Linked DNA regions of Homo sapiens: region 2 is linked to region 1. A link means that fine-mapping ties the variant in region 1 to the expression of a gene that starts in the linked region. Tissue or cell type: tibial artery. Region 1 holds a variant in brackets; the other region holds the start of a gene. All regions are shown on one strand. Distances are between the middles of the regions.

Region 1 (2,844 bases):
CTCCTGGCTGTTTAGGGTGAGGTAGGTAGGAAGAGGTTCGCCTGGGGAGTGGGGAAGCCCTCCAGCCAGACTTCTGGCCTCCTCCTCCTCCTCCTCCTCTTTGGTGTCACCCTCCAGCCAGGCAGTGGGGCTGGCACCTTCCCTGCTGGCGTTTGGTAAGTTTTAGCTAAAACGCTAAGTGAGAGACTGAGGAGGGAGTGGGAGGGAGTTTTTCCTTGTTTTCTACTTCATGTTGCCTCATTCCGTACCACGTAGAACAACACCAGACTTGGTTTCTAGAGACTGCAGGTTTGTGTGATGGTCCCGAGACCCTTGGGAAAGGAAGGAGCCTGGACCCCATTCTCAGCCTCACAGGACAGCTCAGCCAGGGGATGTGTTGTTGCCTCAGATTTATTTTTCCATTTCACAAGCCAGAGAGGGCTGCGGGGCGGGGGTGGGTGGGAGACAGGGGGCGCAGTACACCCACATGTCTCTGCCCTTCTTATCCAGTGCTGGGGTCTGTGCAGCTCGTTCCTGCCTGCTGGGAGCAGGTGCACAGAGCCCATTCTCCTGGTCTTGAATCCATAGAGAATGACAGTGAAGATCAGAGGCTGACAGACTGCCTAGGGAGGCCTCAAGATATGTATGGTTATTTGATTTGATTTAAAAACAAGTCAGAGAAAACTTGAAAATAGGGAGGAAGGGAGGAAGGAGGTATTGAGAGAAGGAAGGAAGGAAGGAGGGAGGGAAGGAAGGAGGGAGGGAAGGAAGGAGGGAGGGAGGAAAAGAAGGAGGGAGGGAGGGAAGGAAGGAAGGAGGGAGGGAGGGAAGGAGGGAGGGAAGGAAGGAGGGAGGGAGGAAAAGAAGGAGGGAGGGAGGGAAGGAGGGAGGGAAGGAAGGAGGGAGGGAGGAAAAGAAGGAAGGAGGGAGGGAAGGAAGGGGGGGAAAGAAGGAGGGAGGGAGGGAAGGAAGGAGAGAGGGAAGGAGGGAAGAAGGGAGGGAAGGAGGGAGGGAAGGAGGGAAGGGAGGGGAGGGCAGGGATTTTCCATCTCATTTACCCTGACATAGTTATTGTCATTTTAATTTTTTTATTTCTAACCATCTCCCAAATACATTCCTAGTGGTTCTCATGGCCATGGACGGCTATGTGCAAAATTGCATTCTGCTCTGTGTCACTTACCCACTTCTTTCTCCTGCTCCGTGGTTACCCCTGGATGATCATGTTTGTGGCCGGTTGGATGTGCTGGGGTGCAATTAGCCATGTCCCTGGAGGAGCAGACCCACACCGGGCACCCGTGCTCTCACAGGCCTGCGCTTTTGGAGCTTCATCTCGCC[C/T]TCCCTGAGCTGGTTCATGTTAATTTAATCAGGCTATGCTGATTTCTCTCCAGCTCCCAGCAAATCCTAGCTCGTGGGAAAGCTGGTGTTTTTAGTGGGGGCACAAGCATAATGGTCCCCACCCTCCCCTACCACCAGCCTGGGAATCTGCAGAGCAGGTGAAGTCAGAGGGTACCGTCGGTCCCCGTGAGTGTGCAGGGCAGAGCTTGCTTAGGCTTTTGACCTGAAGTTATTTAAATTCAAGGACATTTCTTAGAGGAAGGACAAAAATCAATAAGGGAGACAGTAAGGCTTTTACTTACACCTCCTGGAGGGCCATGGAGCCTGTGACCCAAGATGCAGGGGGTGGAGGTGGGGGTGGGGGTGGGGGTGGGGGACCCTTGGGGGGCAGATCTCATTACTGGTGTTTGTTTGTGTTGTTATTTTAAACCATCCTAGGGGAGCTTATGAAATCTCTGGAGACTTTTAAAAATAGCATAGTTTCTGGTTTTAAAAGTAGTACATGTCCACTGTATAAAATATGGAAAAATACAAAATGTTCCAAATGATGCCACCCAGAAATGACTACCATTTACCTTTTGATGCATTTTCTTTTTGGGCTTTTTCCCTGTGAATGTGTCGAGTTTTAACATAAATGGTGTAGAGGGTGTTAAGGACGTGTAGTTGTGTGGAGTGAGCCGCTGAATTCTCTCCATGCCTCAGTCCCCCTATCTGTGAAATAGGCCCAAAAGTCAGACCTTCCTCTCGGGCTTGCAGTGAGGCCAGATGAGGACGTGGGAACACGTCAACCCTTGGCACAGTGCCAGGAACACAGTCAGTTCTCAATAAATGCTTGTCATTGCCATTAGCAATTTCAGTCCACCATGTATATAATTTTGGATCCTATTTTTTTTCACTTTGTGTTCTGACCTCAGAATTTTCCCATGTTTTAAATGTTGGGTAACCAGCATTTTTGGGGCTGCATGCGCATTCTTTCTGTGGCTGACTTAACTGCTGTTGGCCATCCACGGCTTCTCCAGCTTTGCATGCTTTTTGGTACCTCCTGCTGAACCTCCTTGCACGTTCATTCTTGTCCCCATTTCTGGTGATCTTAGAGGACAGATACCTAGATGTGGAAATATTGGGTCACAGGCTATGGGAATTTATCTATGGGGCTCTGAATAACGTACGCTCAGCTCACTTTTAAGGAGGAGGACAGGGCTCCCCATTCCCCAGCGAGGTTTGCTGGGGCCAGTCTGACTCCGTCTCTCCTGGAGCTTTCACCTGGGCTTGGTGTTTATTTGCAGAAGTGATAATCCCCAGCCGCACCTGCAACCTGGAGCTCTGGGGATGAGAAACAGCTCCTGTGGCCAATGATATTTCCAGGAGGATGTGTGTCTGGGTTTTTTTGGCACAGGCAGCATGCGGTCCCAGGTATTAGCCAGCCCCGAGACGCAGGAGCTGCAGGGATGCGGCTCCATGTGGGCGGGATAAATCTGTTTACAGGCCATCGCCATGGCTAGGCTGCCTGGCTCCCATTTCACAGGCGCC
Region 2 (2,500 bases), 27 kb before region 1:
ACCTTGGGCAAATTCGGTAACTGTAGGGTCTCACTTTTAAGGAGTGTAAACCACATGGTGGGCACCAAACAGGATAAGATCCTGGAATTCTCTAGAGTTCAACAGTGGAGGTGGGGAGGGAGGGGACCGGAAGGCCTGTCCTGGCATTTTCAGTAGTCTCCACAGGAAGTTCTGTCCTGGCATTTTCACTAATTTCCAGTGACCCCACAGAGGGTCACTTGGAGACTCAGTGGCCAGAGACCCCACAGCGTACCCCAGCTCCTAGGAGTTGGCCTGCTTCTTGTTCCTTCCTAGAAGCTGGAGTCACATTACTGGACCGGAAAAGGCTCCTAGTATCTAAACCAACGAAGAAGGCCCTTCTTTCACAGCCCCCCCGCACTTTGGAGACTCCCACAACTTTACCTCCACACTAGTTTGCCCCCCGACCCAGGCCCTCGACACTCCCCACGCAGGGCTCCCAGGATTCGGGGATGGGCAGGGCTCGGGTCCTGGTCCCTCCAAGTGGGGGCTGCCTCTCCAGAGTGGACAGGGGACCCGCGGAGGGGGTGTCTTATCCCGGACGGGAGGGAGACGCTGCCTCCTGGACCAGGTACTGGGACCCACGGGCCCACCCCCAGTTGCGTCACCCGGCCCACCGCCCCCTGAGACATCACAATCTGGGGGCCGGGACCCGCGCCTCATCACAGCCGGTTTGTAACCAAACAATCCAACCTACAAACACCCCGGAAAGAAAAAAAACACAAGCTGGCCTGACCCAGCCTCCCGCCCCTGCCCCGCCCCGCCCCGCCCCTCGCCCCTCGCCCCTCGCTCCTCAGGGCCCCCGCCCCCGCACGGGGGAGTGAGAGCGAGCCCGCCGCCCCGCACCCGCCGCCCCGCGCTCGCTCGCGCCAGCCCGCGGCGGGGGCGGCCCCGACCGCGCCGCCCGCCCCTCCCCGCCCCGCCCCGCCCCGCCCGCGCCCGCGCCCCGCCCGCGCCCGCCGCGACTCCAGCTCCGCGGCGCCCTCGCCGGGTGCGTGCCGCTCGCGCGCCCGCCAGCCAGGCTCTCCGCGCCCGCCGCCCGCGCCGCGCTGGCCCGGGCTCTCCCGCCCGCGCTTCATGGCTGCACACGAGTGGGACTGGTTCCAACGCGAGGAGCTCATCGGGCAGATTAGCGACATCCGAGTGCAGAACCTGCAAGGTAACGCAGCCCAGGCTCGCCCCGGGATGGCTGGGCGCTCGGGGGGCCCGGGGCGCCGCTCCGACACTTGGCAACTCCCCCGCGCCGCCCCCGCTCGCCGGCCGCTCGTTGTTCCTGTCACTTGCCTCGAGGTGGGAGGCTGGGGTTGGATACCCGCCCCCAAGCCCCAGGGCGGCCAGCCGCGGCCAGGTTTACAGTTGCCCAGGGGGTGGGGCGCCACACGTGTGTGTGTTGTGGGGCGAGGGCTCGCATTTTCATTAGGGGGACGTCACCACCCCCTCCAGTCACCGCTGCGAGTTTGGAGAAGTTTGTACGTGGGCTCTTGGGGGCGGTGGCCCAGGTTAGGGAGGGGAGGAGACAGTGCGACTCTGTGTGTGTGTGTGTGTGTGTGTGTGTGTGTGTGTGTGAGTTCGCGCACTTCCTAAGTACCTTCGAGGCAAGGGGAATTGAATGGTGGGCGGCGCTTCAGGGGGTGAGTTGGGGAAAGCGGGGCCAGGGGTGCGGATCGGATCGGTGGGGTCAGGCAAGCACCCAACTCCAGCGGCCACTTTGCTTAGGGAGCTGCCCCTCCCCTGCAGGATCAGGACTCTAACTGGGGAGAGGGCGAGAGCCCCACCCTTCCCCCACGCTGGCCCCCAACTCCGACCCTGCCTGGGCACAGGACACTGGGACCAAGGCTTCTACCTGGGAGGTAGCTGAGAAGAGGTGAAAGAGAAACTCCAGTGGTGGAGAGCGGCTGGGTATGGCGGTGCCACACATGAAGTGTGTTTCTCTTTCAAAAGAATTTATTCAATGTGGAAACTTAGAAAGCACAAAAATATTTGAAGGAAAAAAGTCACCCATAATTTCCCCTCCACAACCTATCCACCCAACAGACAGGTGTTCTTCATGGAACTGTATCTCCAGCTTCTTTTTTTTCATATATGGGCTTTGCAGAACTAGACAGAACACCACTTCCGGCCCTTCTTCACCCACATTGACCTGTGCAGGTGAAGTTTCTGTAGCTGCTTCCCCTGCTGGCTTGGGTTTCTAGAGGGTTCAAGGTTAGGAGTGGCTAGGAGCGAGCTGGGAGGCCTGGGCAGAGAGGCGATGGGGCTGTGGGTGCCCTCCCCCAGCCAGGGCAGCGACTTTACTGTTATAGGGTAGGGAGCCCCAGCGCTGGGGGATGGCCGAGCAGTCAAGTTTAAACATTACACCTGATTGAATGTTTCCTGGGAGCCCAGGGTCTGCCCCACCCCTAGGTTGGGCAAGGACAGTGCCGGCAGAGGTGACCTCAAAAGGACTGGGGAGCCTCCTGGGGTGGACACTGGAAACTGAGTTTGC

Direction of the effects. Alleles are on the strand shown, and positions count from the first base shown. SD is a standard deviation of normalised expression in the study named.
As copies of T replace C in region 1, the expression in tibial artery of the gene that starts at base 980 in region 2 goes up (small effect, 0.24 SD a copy in GTEx).

What was found. PIP is the estimated chance that this variant, and not a neighbour inherited with it, causes the effect.
Region 2: it holds the start of CLMN, and the variant in region 1 is fine-mapped to the expression of CLMN in tibial artery (GTEx, PIP 0.91).

The regions. Positions count from the first base shown.
Region 1 is chr14:95,291,275-95,294,118 of GRCh38, reverse strand. All of the region lies in intron 1 of CLMN (calmin), which reads left to right. Among named protein-coding and RNA genes, the nearest start is that of CLMN, 27 kb to the left of the region's middle. The variant C/T (reference allele first, on the strand shown) is at 1,315.
Region 2 is chr14:95,318,388-95,320,887 of GRCh38, reverse strand. It overlaps CLMN (calmin), which reads left to right and starts at 980. Exons shown (of 13, transcript NM_024734.4): 1 at 980-1,177. The coding sequence starts at 1,096. RefSeq lists a silencer at 1,000-1,259 and enhancers at 1,890-1,969, 1,990-2,109.